Linked DNA regions of Homo sapiens. The protein of the gene in region 1 interacts with the protein of each later gene in a biochemical or structural test. Each region holds a gene or a part of one and is shown on either strand. Other genes may lie near its edges. The genes, in order: RRP7A and UTP23.

What was found.
Region 2: the proteins of RRP7A (region 1) and UTP23 form a complex in vitro, tested with the Homo sapiens proteins (one study listed by BioGRID).

Annotation. Positions count from the first base shown.
Region 1 is NC_000022.11:42,514,879-42,526,555, reverse strand, and holds the start of RRP7A (ribosomal RNA-processing protein 7 homolog A), read left to right. Parts: upstream 1-6,759; 5' UTR 6,760-6,769; coding exon 6,770-6,842; intron 6,843-7,202; exon of another isoform or gene 7,203-8,140; intron 8,141-8,408; coding exon 8,409-8,551; intron 8,552-10,419; coding exon 10,420-10,545; intron 10,546-11,287; coding exon 11,288-11,405; intron 11,406-11,677. UniProt on the Homo sapiens protein: Nucleolar protein that is involved in ribosomal RNA (rRNA) processing. Also plays a role in primary cilia resorption, and cell cycle progression in neurogenesis and neocortex development.
Region 2 is NC_000008.11:116,759,487-116,771,497, forward strand, and holds the start of UTP23 (rRNA-processing protein UTP23 homolog), read left to right. Parts: upstream 1-7,037; 5' UTR 7,038-7,117; coding exon 7,118-7,305; intron 7,306-10,705; coding exon 10,706-10,880; intron 10,881-11,969; coding exon 11,970-12,011. UniProt on the Homo sapiens protein: Involved in rRNA-processing and ribosome biogenesis.

The DNA.
Region 1 (11,677 bases):
AGGGTGGGATGGAAGTAAGTATAAACTTCCATGCAAAGCAAACAAATAGGATATAATAAGGATTTGGGGCTGGGCTGAGTGGCTCAAACCTGTAATATTAGCACTTTAGGAAGCCAAGGTAGGAGGATTGGTTGAGCCTGGAAGTTTGAGACTAGCCTGGGCAACACAGTGAGACCCCATCTCTTAAAAAAAGAAAGAAGACTTTTTAAAAGTGTTACTAGGCCATTACTGTTGATTCCCCATTATTCGGGATTCGATCATCCAGTCTGAGGATCACTGAAGCCTTTTCTAGGCTGTTTTGATTCATCTTTTGTGTGTGTGTGTGTGTGTGTGTGTGTGTCTGTGTGAGACAGAGTCTCGCTCTGTTGCCCAGGCTGGAGTATGGTGGCGTGATCTCAGGCCACTGTAACCTCCGCCTCCTGAGTTCAAGAGATTCTCCTGCCCCAGACTCTTGAGTAGCTAGGATTATAGGTGCGCGCCACCACGCCTAGCTACTTTTTATATTTTTAGTAGAGACAGGGTTTCACCATGTTGGCCAGGATGGTCTCGATCTCTCGACCTCGTGATCTGCCCGCCTCGGCCTCCCAAAATGCTGGGATTACGGGTGTGAGCCACCATGCCTGGCCTTGACTCATCTTTTCATTCTTTCACTAATCTTGGCATTTCCTAATATTAATGAAAATAAAAGGAAATGAGAGTGAAACAACAGGTTTACTTTCCTCTATTAGCTTCTGAGGGAAAAGGAACGGACAAGAGCAGGTTGGGCGACCAGCTGGCATTTGCCCCTCTGTCAGGTGACCTCGACATCCCCGCATTGCAGAAAGGACCCTGAGAGCTGACCTTACCTGTGTGCGTCTCCCCAACGAAAACTCTTAGCAAGTCTGACTTACAGACCACTAGAAACCCGATCGGGACCCAGAAACCCCACTCCCAGGTATTCACCCAAGAGAAGTGAAAACTTCCATTCATACAAACACCTGTGCGTGAATGTTACAGCAGCTTATTCATAATCGTCGAAACCTGGAAATCGCCCACATCCTTTACTTGGTGAATAGATAAATAGACCACACTCCATCCAGACAGTGGAACATTTCTCAGCAATGAAAAGGAACCATACAACAATGTGGGTGAACCTCAAATCACGATGCTCAGTGAAAGAACCTGGACTCGCACGATTCCACTTTCAGGACTCGCTGGAAAAGCAACGGGAGAACAGAGCAGTGGTTGCCAGCGGCAGCACGGGAGTTCTGGGAGTGACGGGATGTTCCCTATCTTGACTGTGGTCATGGTGATAGGACTCTATGCATTTGAACTATATACCAAAAGAAGTGAATTTTACTGTGTGGACATTTGAAAGTATTTTTTAACCATTAAAAAAGAAAAATTGAGGCTGGGCACAGTGGCTTATGCCTGTAATACCAGCACTTTGGGAGGCCGAGGCGGGCGGATCACAAGGTCAAGAGATCGAGACCATCATGGCCAACATGGTGAAACCCTGTCTCTACTAAAAATACAAAAAGTAGCCGGGCGTGGTGGCGGGTGCCTGTAGTCCCAGCTACTCAGGAGGCTGAGGCAGGAGAATGGTGTGAACCCGGGAGGCGGAGCTTGCAGTGAGCCGAGATCACACCATTGCACTCCAGCCTGGGTGACAGAGTGAGACTCCATCTCAAAAAAAAAAAAAAGTGACTTCAATTTTTCCTTCTCCTCCTCTTGGCTTGTAAAAGGGTTACCCCTGCGTGGCTTCAGAGTGTTTAAAATCGCTTACCTCCTCTTGAGGAGGTTTAACATTCTTTCCTTTTTTGAGACAGAGTCTTGTTCTGTCACCCAGGCTGGAGTGCAATGGCTTAATCTCGGCCCACTGCCACCTCCACCTCCCGGGTTCAAGGGATTCTCTTGCCTCAGCCTCCCAAGTAGCTGGGATTACAGGTGTGCATCACCACACTCAGCCAATTTTTGTATTTTTGGTAGAGACGGGGTTTCATCATGTTGCCCAGTCTGGTCTCAAACTCCTGGACTGAAACGATCCACCCACCTCAGCCTCCCAAAGTGCTGAGATTACAAGTGTGAGCCACTGCGCCAGGCCTCAATATTCTTTCTAATAAGCTCACTTGGGTTCTTATTCAGTGTATTCCTTTTCCCAGGCTGCTGTAACAAAATAATATAAACTGGGTGGCTTAAGACAACAGAAATTGATTTCTGGAGGTGAGAAGTCCAACACCAAGGTGTCGGCAGGGCTGTGCTCCCTCTGAAGGTTCTAGGGAAGAATCCTCCCTCACTTCCTCCGGCGTCCAGTGGCCACAGGCATCCCTTGGCTTATAGCCTCACCACTGCCATCTCTGCCTCCATCTTCCTATGGCCCTCTTTCCTGTGTGTGTCTCCTAGGCATCTTATAAGGACACCAGCCATTGGACAAAGAGCCCACCCTAAATCCAAGATGATTTTATCTTGAGTTGAAAGGACCTGATTACATTTGCAAAGACCCTGTTTCCATATTCAGGTCACATTCACAGGAATGGAAGAGTGGTGGGGGAAGGGAGAGGTTAATACTTGAACATGGCTGGGCGCGGTGGCTCACGCCTGTAATCCTAGCACTTTGGGAGGCTGAGGCGGGCAGATCACGAGGTCAGGAGATCGAGACCATCCTGGCTAACACGTGAAACCCCCGTCTCTACTAAAAATACAAAAATTAGGCCGGGCGCGGTGGCTCACGCCTGTAATTCCAGCACTTTGGGAGGCCAAGGCAGGTGGATCACGAGGTCAGGAGATCGAGATCATCCTGGCTAACATGGTGAAACCCCGTCTCTACTAAAAATACAAAAAATTAGCCAGGCGTGGTGGTGGGCGCCTGTAGTCCCAGCTACTCAGGAGGCTGAGGCAGGAGAATTGCGTGAACCCGGGAGGCGGAGCTCTCAGTGAGCCGAGATCGCGCCACTGCACTTCAGCCTGGGCAACAGAGCAAGACTCCATCTCAAAAAAAAAAAAAAAAATACAAAAATTAGCCAGGCGTGGTGGCGCACGCCTGTAGTCCCAGCTACTCGGGAGGCTGAGGCAGGAGAATCACTTGAACCCGGGAGGTGGAGGCTGCAGCAAGCCAAGATCGCCCACTGCACACCAGCCCGGGAGACAGTGTGAGACTTCATCTCAAAAAAAACATACTTCAACATGTCTCTTGGGGAGCACAATTCAACCTCTATATTCGGTAAGACTCTCTTAGACAGGGCAGGGCAACCTGGCCCTGCACTCCTTGGCCATCCTCTGCTGTCACCCCCAGACCTCAGGCACGGCGGCCCCTCGCTCTCCCCCGTCTTTTCTCTCCGGGCCTCTGAAGTCACCAGTTCTCCATGCCCAGCCGTGGCCTGTGGGAGGGAGCTGGGGGGGTGAGCTGGAGCTGCCACTTAGCGGCAGAGTCGCAAACTCACCGTTCCTAATGAAGCCCGTCGCTTCTCCCTCCTCCTCCTCCCAGCAAGCAGGAAAAAAAAAAAAAGTTGACTACTGAGACCACATGCTAGGAAATCCATGGGTGGGTGCTCTAGTTGACAAGTCCCACTTGAGCCCAGCCATATTCGGCCATTCTTGCACTGCTATGAAGAAATACCTGAGACTGGGGAATTTATAAAGCCAAGACGTTGAATTGGTTCTGCAGGCTGTACGGGAAGCATGGCTGCATCTGCTTCTGGGGAGGCCTCAGGGAGCTTTGACTCATGGTGGAAGGCGAAGTGTGAGGGGTCACTTCACATGGTGAAAGCCTGACCAACAAAGTGGGGGGTGAAGCAGCCACCCATTTTTAAACAAACAGATCTCGCGAGAACTCGCGATCGCAAAGACGCAAAGACGGCGCCAAGCCATGAGGCCCCCATGATCCAAACACTTCCCACCAGGCCCCACCTCTAGCACTGGGGATTACAATTTAACATGCGATTTGGGCGGAGACAAATACTCAAACTCTATCACCAGCCATCCCTGCTGAGATGCCGGACTCATCTGCTGAGATGCTGCGATGTGAGTGAAGTGACTTGGAACCTTTAGTGCAGCCCATATGCCAGCTGAATACCATCAAATGCCCTCAGTCAGTGCCACAGGGAGAAACAAAATCTCCTAGCAGAGCATTGCCCAAATTCCTGACCCATGAAATACATGGGCAGTGGTAATTATAAAGAAAGTGGAGTTAATTGATCGAGTGGCATCAGTGGGCTGAAGGAAGAAAACAACAGGCCTCAGGACAGCCATTTATCAACTTATAGCCCAAGGTGAAAATCAGGAGGGGCTTCCAGAGACGTGTTTAAAGACAGGTCACATTGTGCTGATAAAGGCCTAGAACCTGATGAGAACTGTGGAGTTTGAATCAGGGCAGATGAACGGCTGTGCTAAGTGCTGTGCTCCAGTCAAGGAGCACAGAAGTGAAGGAGCGGACACTGTCACCTAGGGCAGGGAACGTCTGGATAGATGGGCTCAAGAGTCTTGAATTCTAGGCTGGGTGCAGTGGCTCACACCTGTAATCTCAGCACTTTGGGAGGCCGAGGTGGGCAGATCATCTGAGGTCAGGAGATCAAGACCAGCCTGGCCAACATGGTAAACCCTGTCTCTACTAAAAATACAAAAAAGTAGCTGGGTGTGGTGGCACATGCCTGTAATCCCAGCTACTTGGGAGGCTGAGGCAGGAGAATTGCTTGAACCCGGGAGGTGGAGGTTGCAGTAAGCTGAGATGGCAGCACTGCACTCCAGCCTGGGTGTCAGCAGAGTGAGACTCCGTCTCAAAAAAAAAAAAAAAAAAAAAAAAAAAAGGCTTATGCCTGTAATCCCAGCACTTTGGGAAGCCGAGGTGGGCGGATCACAAGGCCAAGAGATCGAGACTATCCTGGCCAATATGGCGAAGCTCTGTGTCTATCAAAAATAAGAAATTTAGCTGGTCATGGTGGTGCACACCTGTAATCCCAGCTACTCAGGAGGCTGATGCAGGAGAATTGCTTGAACCCAGGAGGCGGAGGTTGCAGTGAGCGGAGATCGCGCCACTGCACTCCAGCCTGGCGACACAGCGAGACTCCATCTCAAAAAAAAAAAAAAAAAAGTGATGTTGTGTGGCCAGTCCTGATATCCATCGAGATGGCTCCTTGAAGCGTGGAAGCAATACATGAGAGGGAGATAACAGAACGATGGTGGCAGGGCACTGAGAAGGAGCCAAAGGCCTCGGGGAGGGGGATGTGCAGGCACAGATTTATTATGCAACATCTGAGAAGCCAGATGACCGTATTTCTGGAGGGTTCACCAGAGACTGCTTTGACTAGTGGGGGGTCTAGGCATCAATGGGCAATCGGCATGGCCGTCCTCTGAGGCCAGGGTAGAAGAGGGCAAATAGGACTGGAGCCGGGCTCGGAAAGGTCAGCAGGAGATAGGATTCCAGAGAGCAGAGGTTCGGTTGATGTGACTGTCAGAACAGGAGCAAGGCCAGAGTGGCTGCCAGGGATCCTGGGCGCACAGGAGTCTCTGGTGAATGCTAGTAGACCACGGTATTCCCAGGGGCCACGGAAGCCCCAACACTGCTTGACTGCGCTAAGCAAAGAAAGATCAAAAACAAAAAACGAGCGAACAGGACAGTAATGGCAGCTGCTGATGGAAAATCCCAACCCCTCATCCAGTTTCCAGGCCTAAGCTAGGCCTCAGAACCAGAGGTCACTGACTGAAAGGGAGGCTGGGTCCCCTCCAGACCACAAATATTTGCAGTAGTAGGCTCCTAATCTTTCCCCAAAGGGGCCGACAGCATTTCCAAGAAGCAACTGTACACTGGGAAAAGAGAAATAGTAGATACATCAAGGGCTGGCGGGTACACAGTCTGAGAGGCCCTTTGGAGTCCAGAAAAGTGGAGTCCTTGGACTTCATTTCTCCCCTATCTACACTTGCTCCCTTGGCGATCACACCCTCTCATAACTTTCTTTTTTTTTCTCTTTCTTTTTTTTTTGAGACAGAGTCTCGCTCTGTTGCCCAGGCTGGATTGCAGTGGGGCGATCTTGGCTAACTGCAATCTCCGCCTCCTGGGTTCAAGCGATTCTCCTGCCTCAGCCTCCCGAGTAGCTGGAATTACAGGCATGCACTACCACGCCCGGCTACTTTTTGTACCTAGTAGACACGGGGTTTCACCATGTTGGCCAGGCTGGTCTGGAACTCCTGACCTCAAGTGATCCGCCCCCCTCGGCCTCCCAAATTGCTGGGATTACAGGCATGAATCACCGCACCCGGCTCCTCTCGTAACTGTCAATAACCTATCCATGGCCAGTCCCGTGTGTATTGCTCCAGGCCTGACATCTCTGATGTTCAGTCTGTTCAGTCTCATATCTAAGTGCCCACCTGACATGTCCCCTGAGTGGCCTAATGGGCATCTCACCACGGCTCACAGAGAACTGATCTACTCCATTTTCACCCCCAAGCAGGCCCCTCTCCTGCAGTCTTCCCATCTCAGTCAATGGCAACACCATCCTCTTAGTTGCTCAGACTGAAAACCTAGCAGCCATCCTGGATTTCTCTCACACTGCCTATTCAACGTGTGAATGCATGAGTGGAAAGCTGAGTTCGCACTCGTGACTGGCCGGGGTCAACTCTGACATTCGCTCCCACTTTCGCGCGCTGATTTATCTCTGAGCGGATGAAGGTTGGGCCATGGCGGGCGGGGCCGGGGAGGCGGGCTTGGAGTGAGGGGGCGGGGCAGGCGCCACGAAAACGCGCTCGCGCCGGCGCCGAACCGCAACTCCCGGCGGCCCCCGCGCTCCCGGGTGGCAAGATGGTGGCGCGCAGGAGGAAGTGCGCCGCGCGGGACCCGGAGGACCGTATCCCCAGCCCACTGGGCTACGCAGGTGAGGGGCTCCGGGACGCGAGACCGGGGGCGGTCAGGCATCGCCGGGAGGTGTTTGGGGGTTGGCGACGGCCGGGGGTCCCCAGGAGCGGCCGCACGGTTGGGTGTGAGCCCCGGTGGCCCGTGGCCCCAGGCTCCGCAGGTCTTGAGGCTCCGGGGTCCCGAGGACCCAGGCGGCGCCCTTCTGCCTGCTCACTCTCCCGGGGCGAGCCCAACTTGGTCCACGCTTCCCTTGGGTGAGCCCGCCTCTGTCCACACTCTCACCCAGGACAAACCCATTTCCGTCCACACCCGCTCGTCCAGGTGAGCCCATCCCCTTCTCATCGCCTCTGCTCCTAGTCCATCCCCCATCAGCTCTTACCTGGGCTGTTATAGGCCCTCCTACTCGGTTGCCCTCCTTCTCCTCTTGCCCCTGCTTCTGTTCTCCACCCACGTGCCAGAATGTTCTTTTAAGGACATTTAGATTCGATCATGTCTGCCGCGCCCACGATAGGCGCCACACCTACTGCATTCCCTCCAGTGGCTTTATCAGGTAGCTTCTAAAACAAAAACCAGACTTCTTAACCTGTGTGGGCCACGTGGTCTGGCTGGTGCCGACCTAAAGCTCTTTCTGTTCCTCTGAGGGAACATGCTTTTTCCCCCCTCTGGGTTTTTGCACGTGCTGTGCCGGTTTGTTGCACAGTGGCGTTCTGGCCTGAGCTTTAATGTTGCTTCCTCAAAGAGGCCATCCGTGATGGCCTATGGAAAGAAGACCTCTGCCACCCCATCACCCTGTAATGTTTCTTTCACAATTGATACAAGTTTGCTGTATGCTTGTTAATTGTCTTCTCCGTTATTGCAACTGAGCTTCCTGAGTTCAGGGACCGCAGCTCTACGCCAACCGGTACTGTGACGGAGGTGTGAGAAAAATAGAAGCAGTTCCTAGCTTTATGAGGATTACAGTCATGGGTGTGCCAGCGATTAACCAAAGAATCTCATCAATATAGCCTCCAGACTGTTAAGAGAAGCTGTGAAGGCACAGGCAGTGGGATCTGAGCTGGCAGGAGGGGCGGAGGTGATGCTAAGGCTCTCCTGAGGAAGCGAGGTTTGAGCTAAACCTGAGGTGAGCGGGAGGGAAGAGGGTGACACGCCAGGTAGAGAGGCCAGCATGTGTGAGGCCCTGGTGTACCCGGGGGAACAGAGAATCCAAGGTGCTGGGGGAAGATGGTACGAGAAGAGGTCACAGTGACAGGCAGGGTCTCACGGGGCTTCCAGCCATGGTTAGGATTTTGGCGTTGACTCCAAGAGCCGCAGGGTTCGAGCTTCCCTCTCATTGCGCCCCCATCTGTAATCATTGCCCATTTATCTTCTCTCTCCCTGCACCGCCTTGGGAGGCCCTCCTGGGCAGACTCTTAGAGCCCGCACAGGCTTTGCCAAAGAGTAGGGTAAGGGGGGTTGGTGAAGGGATGGATGGATCGATGAACAGATAGGACTAGACAGGGATGTGGAGAAAGGAAGTTGTGTGAGTGTCTCGCTGGCCTCAGCTCAGGGTAGCCTGGCCATCCCTCCCCTCCCATTTCCTTTCCAGCTATTCCAATCAAGTTCTCTGAAAAGCAACAGGCTTCTCACTACCTCTATGTGAGAGCACACGGCGTTCGACAAGGCACCAAGTCCACCTGGCCTCAGAAGAGGACTCTTTTTGTCCTCAATGTGCCCCCATACTGCACAGAGGTGAGCTAGTGTCTGTCTGGGAGGAGACCTGTGGGCTCAAGGTGGGGGCTCCCATGGCCTCCACCAAGTCCTTGGTGGTGAGACGGACACAGCTAATGGGAGCCCCAGAGGAGAGTGTCAGGAGGGCTACCGTGATCTCCAGTCAGGAAACTGGCTTTTTAAAGATGTCTTTAAAAGTATAATCCTGCCAGGCACGGTGGCTCATGCCTGTAATCCCAGCACTTTGGGAGGCTGAGGCGGGCGGATCACCTGAAGGGAGGAGTTCCAGACCAGCCTAGCCAACATGGTGAAATCCCGTCTCTACTAAAAAATAAAAAATGAGCCAGGCATGATGGCATGTGTGGGTAGTCCTGGCTACTAGGGAAGCTGAGGCATGAGAATCCCTTGAACCCGGGAGGTGTAGGTTGCAGTGAGCCAAGATCGCGCCACTGCACTCCAGCCTGGGCAACAGAGTGAGACTCTGACTCAAAAAAAAGAGAAAAAAGTACAATCCTAAGTAGCCCAAGGCATTTTTACATATTACCCAAAGTTGTCTGAATTACGTGTTTTCTTCCAGATTGTACATGTCCATAATTTAAAAGTAGGAAAGTATAAGAAAATAAAAAGTGCCTCTAATTCTATCCAAACACAACTGTTAATTTTTTTTTTTTTTTTTTTTTTTTACAAAAACTAAGCTAAGGGAATTGCTGGATTTATTTATTTATTTATTTATTTAATTTATTTATTTATTTTGAGACAGAGTCTCCCTCTGTTGCTCAGGCTGGAGCACAGCGTTCACAACTCACTGCAACCTCCGCTTCCCGGGTTCAAGTGATTCTCCTGCCGCAGCCTCCCAAGCAGCTGGAATTACAGGCGCCCACCACCATGCCCGGCTCATTTTTGTATTGTTAGTATAGACAAGGTTTCACCATGTTGGCCAGGCTGGTCTCGAACTGCTGACCTGAAGTAATCCGCCCCCTTCAGCCTCCCAACGTGCTGGGATTACATGCGTGAGCCACCGCCCCTGGCCAAGGGAATTGCTGGATTTGTTTTCAAAAAAGAAACCCTAATTTGTAAAAGATTCCTCTAAACTTAGAGAAAAAAAGAAGCATGTAGAAGAGGGGGTGTGAGTTCTGACCTTTTTTGAAGTGCAGCATGTGTGCCTGGAAGGGCCCCAGTGGCAAGTGTCCAGCTCGCTGCATCCCAGAGACAGAACATAGCTGTGTAGTCAGCGCCCAGGTGGAGACACAGCAGCACATCCCAGAACCCCCGCTGCCTCCACCACAGACAACCACCATCCCAACTGTCATAGCATAGGGTCACTACTGCTGATTCAGGTAGTAAAACTTGTCATAGGAAATCAGAATAACAGCAAGAATGTCCCCACCTGTCTCCAGTGAGAGAGCAGGAATATGCCGGGCACAGTGGCTCACGCCTGTAATCCCAGCATTTTGGGAGGCCGAGGCGGGCGGATCACCTGAGGTCAGGAGTTCAAGACCAGCCTGGCCAACGTGGCAGAACCCTGTCTCTTCTCAAAATACAAAAATTAGCCACGTGTGGTGGTGGTGGGCGCTTGTAATCCCAGCTGCTCGGGAGACTGAGGCATGAGAATCACTTGCAACCCGAAGGTGGAGGTTGCAGGACTCCAGCCTGGGCTACAGAGCAATACTCCAACTCAAAAAAAAAAAAGAGCAGGAATATCAACCTCCATATTGTCCCTGGGGAACAGGTCGGAGGCCATGGTGCCCACAGTCTCCCGGCTTGGGCAGATGTGGCTGTGGCTGAGTCCTTCAGCGGCGCTGGACCCCTGGCAGCGCCACCCATGGTGCAGGGAGGCTTTGGGATGGCCCTGCGGATGCTCACACTTGGCTTCCCTCTCCCTGCGGCAGGAGAGCCTGTCCCGCCTCCTGTCCACCTGTGGCCTCGTCCAGTCTGTAGAGTTGCAGGAGAAGCCGGACCTGGCTGAGAGCCCAAAGGAGTCAAGGTCGAAGTTTTTTCATCCCAAGCCAGTTCCGGTGAGCCGCCAAGCCCGGGGTTCCACTAGAGTGAGGGGGGTGGGGCACTGTCCCCAGTGTGTTGGGGGAGCTGGCAGTGGGACATCAGAGCATTCTCTGGTCCTGAGCCCATCCTCACCGTGTGTGGTGTAAGAGACTGTCTGGGTGACAAAGCCTGCGATTCTTTGCCAGATTTGCCACATCCTTGCACTTCCTGCCTGGCTTTTTCTGTCCCGTGTTAAAGCTCACGGACCGTCTCTGCTGGCCACCTGCAGGGCCTTCCCCGGCTCCCCTCCTGCTTCCCCACTGAGGGAGCTCCTTCCCCAGGCTTGGGGGCCGGGTCTCCAGGAGCACTGTTGTTCACAGCTTTCCCAGTGGCCCTGGAGCCCACACCTCCTCCCCACACAGTGGCATCTGGCATGGTGTGTGCGCCCAGGCCTGGCTTCCAAAAACCTGCCCTGGCCCAGGGCGACCCCTGTGTTTCACCGCATCCCTCCCGTGACTGGAAGAAAAGAAGCCTCTGTATCCCCTCTTCCTGGGGAGGAGTTGGGAACAGCCGTCACTTCCCGCAGAAGCAGGATTACTGGAAGTGTGGCTGCCTCTGACCTGGATTATGGGATGGCCTGTGGTTCTCTTCATGGCTCAGGAATAGCCTAGCACCATCTCCCCTGGTGTAGCTACCACCTAGGCTGAGGGCAGGCCTGGAGACCTTGTGCCAGACGTGGGAAGGAGCCCCCAACCTCTGACATCTCTCTCTCTTCAGGGTTTCCAGGTAGCCTATGTGGTGTTCCAGAAGCCAAGTGGGGTGTCAGCGGCCTTGGCCCTGAAGGGCCCCCTGCTGGTGTCCACAGAGAGCCACCCTGTGAAGAGTGGCATTCACAGTTAGTACTGCGGGAGGGGTCTGGCGCCTCCTTTCTGGGCTCCGGGTTGGCAGGACACTCTATGGGGACAGTGTCTGAATGTCACAAGCCAAGTCCATGCTCCCTGAGAGCAGCATGTGGAGGCCTGGGCAGGAGGACCATGGGGCTGTGTCTGGGTCCCCAGGGAGTCATTAGCCTGAGCCCCTGGCACAGAGCGGCACAGGCATACTGGGCAGGCAGAGCGAGGGCGCAGCTTGCAGCCCCTGGGATCTCCTTAGCACCTGTGCCCCGGG
Region 2 (12,011 bases), on another chromosome or scaffold:
ACCCAGTATTGGAGCTGCTTTCCCTCACTTGGCTAAGACACTTAAACCCCTTTCAATGCAGTAAAATGAGTCAGGACACCAAAGATGAGCCCCTAAATGTTGTTAAATGTCATTTTATTACGATAGAGAGTGCTAACTTACAACAGAGAGTATACATTTCGGGGTTCACCTGGCTCGTTCTATATTCAGATGAGCCAAAAGATGTGTGGGGTGTGTTTGTGTATGTGTGTGTGTGCGTGTGCGCGCGCACACACGCACATGCTTGCCGTGTCTTACTTTGTTGCCCAGGCTGGAGTGTAATGGCACGATCTCAGCTCACAGCAGCCTCAACCTCCCCAGGCTCAGGTGAACTTCCCACCTCAGCCTCTCGAGTAGCTGGGACTCCAGGCACACAGCACCACACTTGAATAATTTTTGTACTTTTTGTAGATAACCAGTTCCACAATGTTGCTCAGGCTGGCCTCGAACTCCTGGGCTCAAGTGATCCTCCTACCTTGGTTTCCCAAAGGGCTAGGATTATGGGTGCGAGCCACCATGCTCAGCCTGCCAATTTAAATTATTTTAAACAAGAGGGAAATATATGCTATCATGGATCTGGATGTCTAGAGAAGGGCATACTCCAAGTGAAGCAGCATAAAGACTACAGTTTCATTACTTCATGACTCTCTGGACTCTGTCTCCTGCCATGTTTGGGTTCTGACCAAAGACTGGCTACCACTATAATCTCAAGCTCACAGTAGCAATTGAAACAATACACTTTTTGTTTTGTTTATTTTAAGGAAACCTCTCCCCCAGTCATAGAAAAAAGATCTTGCTCATTAGCCTCATTGAGATCAATTTAAGTCATAGGCCTCCTTTTGTCTACAAATGTGAAATAAGACTATGGGAGGTTATACTTTGAAGAGCTAGGTAATTTGTTCAGTGTTATGAAAGAAACTACAGAGAGTATAAAGTTGGAGCCAATAAAAAGAAAATAATATTCATTTACACATAAGAATTAGCATGTGGTCATTTTCTGTATGTTTGCTAAAATAATAATAATTTTTAAAATGACATTGGACTTTTCATCCCAGTATTTTGATTCATCACTTACCAACTAATATTTAAACAAAGTAATCTTGCAGTAAAAAAAAATTTGAGAGGATTGTAAGAGTGACTTTTATTTTGTATAATATCATGTAATTAATACTTCATATTGGTGTAATTCAATTATAAATACTAGACTTTGAAATAATATTCTACTGGATTATTGAAAGCATGTTTAATTTCTTGCCACCAGGAGTTCAGTTTCTGCCCTGAGTCCTCCTGCTGCTTAAAAATATATACAAAACCATGAGTGAAAGAGTTGGCTTCAACATTTTGTTAAATATAAATAGTGTTTTTTAGAAAATCCTTTTAAAGCTGTAATCTGACATAATTTCCAATCTTTAAACTTCTTTAAGTAACAGTAATAATATTTGGTTACCTAGAGTAATTTTATAAAGATTCATTAATCTTCTAAAGTGCTTTGATAGATTAAAATGAAAGACCCATTTAGTGTGAACTTCTCTATCAGTTTGAATAATAATTAAATTTCAAATGGCAGTTTGCTTTGCATTACAGTAAAACATGTTTGCCACTGGTACTATTTCTTAACTTTTTGCTCTGCTCTACCAGTTTTTATTTTCACCATTTAAATTAATGCCATTAAACATTTTGTAGTAAAATGCCAATGGAGAGCACTATTTAAATCTGTTAGAGACGGGCTGGGTGAGGTGGCTCACACCTGTAATCCCAGCACTTTAGGAGGCCAAGGTGGGCAGATCTCTTGAGGTCAGGAGTTTGAGACCAGCCTGGACAACATGGTGAAAACCTGTTTCTACTAAAAATACAAAAATCAGCCAGGCGTGGTGGTGGGCACCTGTAATCCCAGCTACTCAGGAGGCTGAGGCAAGAGAATCGCGTGAACCCGGGAGGCAGAGGTTGCAGTGAGGCGAGATTGCACCACTGCACTCCAGCCTGGGCAACAGAGTGAGACTCTGTCTCAAAAAAATAAATACATACATACATACATACATCTGTTAGAGAAATAATAAATTTCTTTCAATTTACCTAACATGGTAGTATTTGTTCTAAGTATGATTTCATCCAAATAAATTATTACAGAAAGCAAACTTGCTAGTCTAATTTTATAGTGATCCGACAATAGTCATCTGATAACTGATGATGGGCACTTCCTGTTTACTGTCTAGTTTAGAAATATCCTCGAGAAACAGAAATCTCTTGAAATCTTTTTCTAAGAGACAGCTTCTCCTTTGTCATTTGACCTGAAAGAAGAGCTCACTGATACTGGCAGGACCTATATACATGAATTCCGCTTGCTTTCTTTAACTGACAACTGGATGACACTAACATTTCCTTGATGTTCCTTACCCAAGCAGCTGGGGCTCTTCATATTTAACTAACTTTTCTCAACAGGAGATATATCCCACTGACACACCAAATTCAAATCAAATTGTTTATACTTTCAAGAGAAACAAATGTCAAGACAGTTTCTATAGTATGTAAAGAAAGATTTGGTTTATTTAACTTGGAAGACTTTCCACCTTTTAGAGGAAACATATAAACTAGTATTTTGAACCTGTTCAAAGGAAGGGCAATTGTATTGACTGACATCAGCTAACATCAAGGTCTCATCAAACATATTTGTTCATATAAAATTATCTAATTCTGGCAAGTAGTTTTAACTTCCTCTATCATTTAGCATTGAGTTTGGCTACATATAAAATAAACTTATGATAACTTTTTTTTAAAACCAAGGTAGAAGTTTATTTTTCTTCTCATGTAAAAGAAATCCAGAAGTAGAAAGTCTATGTTTGGAAAGACACTTTCACAGTTGCGAGCGATCCAAGCTCCTCTTATCTGCTTTGCCAGTGTTAAGTGAATGACCTCCATTCTCAAAATTACCTCATGGTCTAAAATCGGTTGCTGGAGTTAAAGCTATCACATCCAAATTCCAGGGAGTAGGAAGGAAGGAGATATAAAACACAAAAGTGCCCACTGCCAAGCTAAGTTGACTTCCTTTAAGCCGGCTTCCCAGAATTCCATGCAACACTTACACTTACATATCTTTGGCTAGAACTTAATCCTGTGGTTCTACCTAACTGCACAGAATGCTGGGGAATGGGCTGGCTGCTGTGGCTCACGCCTGTAATCCCAGCACTTTGGGAGGCCAAGGTGAGCGGACCATTTGAGGTCAGGAGTTCGAGACCAGCCTGGCCAGCCTGGCCAGCATAGTGAAACCCGGTCCCTACTTAAATATACAAAAATTAGCCGGGCATGGTGGCCTATGCCTGTAATCCCAGCTACTTAGAAGGCTGAGGCAGGAGAATCGCTTGAACCCAGGAGGTGGAGGCTGCAGTGAGCCAAGATTGTGCCACTGCACTCCACCATAGGCAACAGAGCGAGACTCCGTCTCAAAAAGAAAAGGAAAAAAAAAGAATTCTGGGGAATGGATTTGCTTATCTGGGCACATTACACTCCAGAATAAAATCAGGAGTCTATTCCTACAAAGAAGAGAAGAGATATTGGGTGAAAATTCATAGTCTGTGTCATATCTATTATGTTATATTTGGTGGTTTTGTGAGAAATGTCATGCAGCCATTAAAAATAATGAATGAGAACTCTGCCAATTGACTTTGGGTAGATGTGTGTAGGGATTTCTACAGGATTGTTAGGTGAGAAAAGCAAAATGTATAGAATTGTTAAATATGATTCAATTTCGCATAACAGAGTATCTCTACATAAATATTAAATTGTATATATATGCATATGATATATCAATATGTAAATATGGAAACATTGCCAAGAGATACATAATACATCATCAAAGTGTTATCTGGGCAAGGGGAGAAGAAATTACTATCTTCATGTTCTTCCACTTGTTTTAAGAGGCATATGTTATTTTTGTAATTTGAAATACATAAAGTTTTTGTTATTTTATTTTATTTTAAAGATTATTTTAAAAAGTGACAGCCTCCATATCTGACCTTTGTAACACCTTCTGACATATTTGAAATTTCACAGTAAGGCATTCCATGATGGAGCCTATCCTAGGGGATCTTAGCGAAGAACCTCATAGGACCTCAATACAAAGTGCTTTACCTAAGTTGTCGTAAAATATTTATTTAGCTAAATTATTTATTTAGGCAGTATGTTAGATAATGTTAGGTAGAAATTGTTTTTGAGCTAATGAATGTTAACAAATGTTTATAAATATTTAGATATGAATATAAGGAAGAATAATACCACAATAGATATGTTAGCTAAATTGTCTAACATTTACGAAATTAAACAAAATTATACTAACATTGATGAAATTCAACAAAGTAACCTTTATGAATTATATTTAATGTTTACCTCTTTAATTCCATTTAGGCCATGAATCTTTCATGAGAAAGTCCTATTTGGGAATTAGTCATACGTTTCAAAAATAAATTATTCTCATGTCAACTTGGCTTCATCAAAATTTCATGAAGAAAAAAACTTCAAAATCATGTACAACAGCATAATATTATAAAACTATATTTGATCCAGACATAATAAAATGAAGAACATAAAAAATAAAGAAAAATAAATTAATCGCCTACTTACTCCAGCTGAATGTGGATTTCTATTTGGCATGGAAAATGTCCAGTGGACTGACCTGAGAAAAAAGCTAAAAACTAGCAATGCTGTTATAAATTATTGTTCCTTCAGTATAAGGTCAAAAAAATTTCAATGAATATTAAATATTTTAATAATGACATAACTTTCAAAATAAAATTTCAGATTTAAATTTATATCCAAATGGTTCACTCAATAATGGCAGTATTTGGCTTCTGCCTTGGTTGTGGCTAAATATTGATTTTCCATTACAGATCATTTGGCATCTAAACAAAAGTGTATTAAGTGGACCAATTAATAAAAATATCTTATTGGATAAACGATGCTTTATTACAAAAAAGGTCCTTCAGGAACACTAATGAGCATAATAATGATTTGGGGAGATTGTAATAAATGTCACTTCCTCTTTGAATAGTACCCCTCTCCCTCAATACTTATTCTGAATCAGAAATGGGCATTTTAAACAAGCACACTAAGAGCTTTTTCTGCATATCCCAGGACCTTGTTTTGAGAAACACTGCTGTAATAGAAAACTCTATTTTTTTCTCTTTTTGTCTTCTTTTAATTTAGCAGAGACAGGGGCTCCCTATTTTGCCCAGGCTGGTTTCCAACTCCTGGGCTCAAGTGATCCTCCCGCCTCGGGCTCCCGAAGTTCTGGTATTACAGGCATGAGCCACCATGCCCGGCCGAAAACTTTGTTTTAAACTTGATAATCACCATTATAGACCATCTTCATGTTTTCATAATAAAGATAGGGTGCAAACTGGCACTGTCATATACATAGAGCTTGGGGAAAAAATGTGCTGTAGCTTGGTAAATTAAAAAACGACAACAAAAACTAAGATAAGACTAAAATCCCTAGTGCTGCACCACATTTTTCTTAGTACTGAAAAGTGGCCAAGGAGCTGGTAGATAAATCTGAGGCTATTTAAGAAAAAATGTTTTAACTGTTTTGCAAGACTCAGGTGGTATCTCGTTTCTCTGTCTGTGGTGGGCGCATAGTTGGAGTAGAGAGTTGGCATACAGGGATAAAAAGAGGATTCAAATTGAAAAGTACTGAGCAATTACACTCAAAGACCTTGAATCCAACCCTGCAAAAGTTTTCATGGCTTCCAATTCCTAAATTCATTTTAAGTTTAAATGAAAGCAACCATCTAAGTGATGTGCTGGGACTCAGATCAGGGCTAACATTATAGATCTTATTCCAATTTCATAAACCTACATATTGAAATAAAACCCCAAATGCAAACAATGCATTCAATCACGTTGTAAATCATTTTCTGTGCTGGTTCTTTCAATCTTTAGCCAAAACTAGATCTGGGACAGATTCCAGGCAAGGACAAAAATGCAAAATTCCATACTCCCCATTCTTTGATTATTTTACCTTGAAGTGGATACTCGACAGTTAGCCACGGGAGAACTTGAAATTTTCTGATTCATTCTCCTCATTAATCAAATTGACCAAGTAATTTTTAAACCTCCAGTCAGCTTTGTGCCTTCCTGTTACTGGCCCAGTATGTAGTCTTCCTATGTCAGAGACCATGCACATAAAAAGAGTACTTGAAACTTATCTAGACCTACAACCAGTTTGACAGTGAGGAAGTTGAACCCAGCTTTCTTCGGGAGTTGCCCAAGATCAAACGGCTTGGGTTTGTGGCAAAACCAGGACTCAAGGTTAGGAATTCTGACTCTAGGCAAACGAAGCTCTTGAGAGTTCTTCCAAAACACTCCATGCGAGTGATTTAGGATGGTCCTAAGGCAGGAGGAAATGCAAAATGGTGGCACCCTTTGCCCTGACAAATGGTTCCTGAGTGACGTTAGTTTCTATGGTGGTGTAGCAAGAACATTTGAACTTCAGGCACGAAAACTGGGTTCCAGACACTAACAAACTACGTGCCCTTCGTGAACGTGCTTAATTTCTTTATGGGAAAGCAGCCAGTACAAACCTCCCCACTCATAGCTATCCAATATATCATTTCCTTCTTTCACTTGGGAATTATAAACATTCAGGGGAATAATGTAAGGTAAATCACTTAGGACAGTGTCTGGAACATATTAAGGCTCAATATTATCACTGACTACTACTATACTGCCAGTCTTTCAGAGAAGCTCTTGCTACGCGCCTCTAAAACGTAGGTAACACGCTAAATGTATTCTCGTAATTTTCTTTTACCGTGGCCCCAGACTGCGCATGTGCGCCCCCGTGCGGAATCGCGCACCCCAGCGGTTTTCCAGCGTACGCACAAGTTCCGCCCTAAGGGACCGCCCCTTTAAGCGCGGGCACTGCGGTGGAAGCGCGCGCTGGTCTGGACATGACGTAAACCAATGGGCAGGCCCGGAAGACAGAGGCGTTTGCTTCCGTGGCCAAAGGCGCTTCATTTCCGGGTGAAACTGGCATTGAGGGTACTGGGGCGTGCGTGAGGCGTTTACTGATGCTTCCTGGTCCGGTGGCCTCGGTCCCGGTAAGCCAGGCATGAAGATCACAAGGCAGAAACATGCCAAGAAGCATCTTGGCTTCTTCCGCAACAACTTCGGAGTCCGCGAGCCGTACCAGATCCTGCTGGACGGCACCTTCTGTCAGGCGGCGCTGCGGGGCCGCATCCAGCTGCGGGAGCAGCTGCCCCGCTACCTCATGGGGGAGACGCAGCTGTGCACCACAAGGTGGGCCCGGGGGGCTGGGGAGGAGGCACAGAGGGTCCGTCGGGTGTTGTAGAGGCGAGGCCGTTGCTCACAGACCTTCATTGCGAGCTCAGGAGGTGCAAAACGCCCCGCCCACGTGGAGTTGACAGTTAAGTGGAGAGGTGAAGGTGGTCAGGCGAATACCTATAATAGAGGCAGATTGGACAGTGCCCTGTGAATATCACGTGTCGTTAGCCTGGCGAATGAGAGCACATTATAGCAGAGAGATCCGACTTCGAATCTTGATCCCAGTTCTACCAGCTCTGTGATTTCTGTCAAGTTATTTAGCCTCTCTGAGCCTCGGATTCCTCATTTGTAAAATAAAGATGATAACTGCTTAGAAGATTGCTGTAAGCTCAAACGAGTATAGTGTACTAGAGCATTTTTCGGTATCCAAAGTGTACCCGTCTTCAAATGGTTGCTGTCATTTGCATAGCTTTTCTTAGTTTAAACCAAAACTCTGCAAGCCTCACAGTGAACCTGTGAGTTACCATCTTTGATGTCCAGGGCAAAAAGTCAGTACTTGAGATTAAGGAATCTGCCCAAGCACATTTGTTTATTCAACTCGCTTTATTAAGTACCTCCTATATGCCACATACTGCTCCCTCATGGCCAGTAAAGTGCATAAGTCAGTCTGCAGTGTGTGTTTTCACTCTAGGTCTGATGTTTCCCCACTTCATTGAAATGTGGGAACACTTAGGATGGAAGCTTGTCGGGATGAAGAGGAGAGAGGAGAGAATTGTGACAGATTTCAGATAACATTTGAGCCCATTCACTTGTTCAGTTCTGAGAGGAAGAACTATTTTGAATGACAGAAAAGAATGACACTTCTTGTTGTGGAGACCTCTTCACACGAAATGGAGTTATGAAATGCCTGGGAAAGAGGTTGCAGCACAGAATATATTTGGGAGTGAAACTAGGAAGAAGGCAAATTGAGGCTAGGCCATGAAGAACTATTAAGAAATTTAGTAGTTTTTTCATTGTAGAATATTTACTTTTAAAAAGCAAAAAAAGAAAATTAAAATGACTCATAATACCACTACTCACGAATAATCACTGTTAACATGTGCAGTGTCATCCATCCAGTTCTTTATACACACTCACACAAGCACAAGAATGGACTTTTAAGCCAGGCAAGGTGGCTCACACTTGTAATCCTAGTAGCTACACAGGAGGCTGAGACAGGAGGGTTGCCTGAGTCTAGGAGTTTGAGGTGAGCCTGAGCAACGTAGGAAACCCCCATCTCTAACTACAGCCATAACAAAGTATGGGCTTTTTCTGTGTATACTGTGTTAATAGTCTCCTTTTCCTCACATACGATTACTTAATGAACAGCTATCTGTATTTGTTCAGAATTTCTCAAGCAGGGTCTCGGCTGGGTTACAGATACCCCCAAAGTTTTGATCCCCTTAGTCTTTAGGGCTGTCTAACAAATCCTTCAGTAGTCTTTGCTCCTGAATTGATTGCTTTTGTCTACAAGCAATTTGTCCATATACTCCTGTGTGCCATAGAAATATTAACATTTTAAATATAGTGCTATGATATTAAAAAGGTTGAGAAGTGCCACATAAAATTATATTCTACAGCAATTTTTCTAACAAATTTATTTTAACTCTGGAATTTTTCAGACAACTCAAAGGTAGAATAATATAATGAAACCTCTCTCCAGCTTTTGCAGTTATTAACATGGCCAATCTTGTTGAATCCCTCACCTCTCCTTACTGATGGGTTGCTTTGGAGCATATTATTTATCACTTCTTTGGCATGTATCTTGAAAAGATAAAGAAGGCTTTTAAAAATCAGTATTCAAACTAAATACATATATTACATTTGATTTATATGTCACTTAAGTTTTTTAAAAAAATTTATTTTTGAGATGGAGTCTCACTTTATTGCCCAGGCTGGAGTGCAGTGGTGCGATCATGGCTCACTGCAGCCTCCGCCTCCCGGGTTCAAGTGATTTCCCTACATCAGCCTCCCAAGTAGCTGAGATTACAGATGTGTGACACCACGTCCTACTAATTTTTGTATTTTTTAGCAGAGACAATGTTTCACCACGTTGACCAGGCTCGTCTTGAACTCCTGACCGCAGGTGATCCACCCACCTCGGCCCCCAAAGCATGGGGATTACAGGCATGAGCCACCATGCCAGGCAGTTTTTAAAAATTTTGGCAGTTTCCCCTCCCTTTAAATTTTGCAATTTATGTTTTTAAGAAATCAGGTCATTCGTTTTTCAGTGGAATATATTTCTTGGCCACTAGTAGTTAGGTCTCTACAGAGTTTACTGATATTCAGGTTTGAAGATGTGTGGAGTTAATTGATGAAGTAGAACAGCAGAATGTTATCAGGCCTGGGTTTTATTTTAGAAAAGATAACTGCAGTGATGTGAAGGGTAAATTGGAGAAACAAGAGAGCAAAGGCATGAATCTGTTTTGCGGTTGTTTAATCAAGAAGTAAGGGGAGCCTAAACCTGGGAGAGGAAAGGCAGGAACCCAAGGGTTCTCCAAAGAAACGCTACGTTACTGAGATAGATAGGTTGAGCAGCTGATGGCATAGGAGTATGGGTGAAGAAGGGCAGGAAGGTCAAATGTGATTTCTGATTTCTATCTAGGGTGTCTGGGAAAATAGTAATTTCAAAGAGATAGCAAGTCTTGGAGGATAAATTTGGATACAGGAAAGTGGTTTGATCTTAGACATGGTGAATTTGAAGAGTTGATAGCAGGACATCCACAGGCTGGCAGTACTCAAAATAGAGGTCAAGTCTAATGACTAAAGCAAGCAAAATCTTCTTGAAACAGAAAGATGATAAAGGAGATGAAGCAAGAAAGAATCTGGCAAATGCTGGCTAGGGTTGAGGAACTCTTATGACTAAATGTTTTTTTAAAAACAACTTGATGATGTGAGAAGTTTTACTGTTCTGAATTGAAAATGTTTTGAAAGTATACCAATTTGTACTTGAAGCAGAAGCTTATTACGCTATGGTTGGGACAAGGGAGCTGTTGTCAAACTGCAAGTCTCGGTACCACTTGCTAGTTACTTGAACTTTGGCATGTTACTTGAAATCTCAGAATGGGGTGCTCTAAAATAAGGATAATTTCAAGGTAAGCGACCTAACTTCATAGGGTTACTTTGAGATTAATCAAGAATTTATGTAAAGAGCAATTTGCATACTACATGGAACATAATAAGTGCTCAGTTAATTTTAACTGTTGTTCTTCCTACTTGGTAAATGCATTTTTCAAGTGATCTTTTAAAGTAAATGGTTACCAGATGACAAATTTAGATTGTAACAGCATAGTTTTATTTTAAGAAAAAATCGACTATTGTTTTTTACACCTTATGTAAACAAGTGAAATGTATCTGCTATAATTTTTCTTTTCAGATGTGTGTTAAAAGAGCTAGAAACATTGGGAAAGGACTTATATGGGGCAAAACTGATTGCACAAAAATGCCAAGTTCGAAATTGTCCTCATTTCAAGAATGCAGTGAGTGGATCAGAATGTCTGCTTTCCATGGTTGAAGAGGGAAATCCTCATCATTATTTTGTGGCAACACAGGTGATACTACTTTTAAAACCACAGGCAATTTTCACCATTTCTATTTATACTTCATATGGAGCTATTTATAATCAGAAAAAAGTTAGAATGATTAGACTTTTAAAAATACAGGCTTCTAAGTTAATTTGCAGTCAGTAAAAGCAATTGTCATTTGAGAATTTGAGGAAAACTTTAAGCATGTTGATATTCTTTTTAGTAGTGGAAGGTTGGGTTTTGTTTTTTTTAATGATTCCTTTGTTTTGCTTTTTTTGTTTGTTTCTTGAGACTTGAGGGTCTCACTATATTGCCTAGGCTGGTCTCGAACCCCTAGGCTAAAGTGATCCTTCCACCTCAGCTCCTGAGTACCTGGGATTACAGGTGTTTGCCATCATGCTGGACACTGGCAGAAGTTTCTTTTTTTAAAACAAGAAATTGTTGACATGAGATGTGATGATTTGTTGTAGGGTTCTTGAAGGGAAGATAAGTAGAGCAAAGTGCCTGTATTCTGTTAATTTTTTTCATGTTCCTGTATTTCATACTGTTTCTCAAAGTCATGGTTCATACTGCTTAAGACTGTACCAACAGTATGAAATATTTCAGGCTTTTGAAGAAAAATATTCCCATCTTCTTGAAGGCAGGAGAAGAGAGACTTTTGGGGGTGATATTAAGTTCACATACATACAGATTTGATTATCAGAATTATAAAATTACACAGAGGTAGAGCTGAATTTAGAATCTGAGTAGCTAATTACTACCCAGTTTCTTTTCCTTTAACCTCTTTAAGCATTCTTGACCCTTTCCAAAGAATATCTTAGAGTGGAAACAGGAGAAACCCACCTAACACATTTACCTTTGCATTAGTTTGTAATTTGTGGCTCTAGAGTATCGATAAATCCGGTTCACACAGCTGCTACTAACACTGTGCTCAGTTTTTATGTTTTTCTTCCTTTATCATGAAATATACCCCCATTACTCAAATGAATAAGTGAGGCTTACTCATTTGAAAAATAAAATCTGTGATCTCTTTTATTTTTAATACAGTTCTTGAAAACCTATTTAAGGTACCTTAATTGACATTTGAACTAAATAATTCTGTTTTCTTTTAAATAGGATCAGAATTTGTCTGTGAAAGTAAAAAAGAAGCCTGGAGTT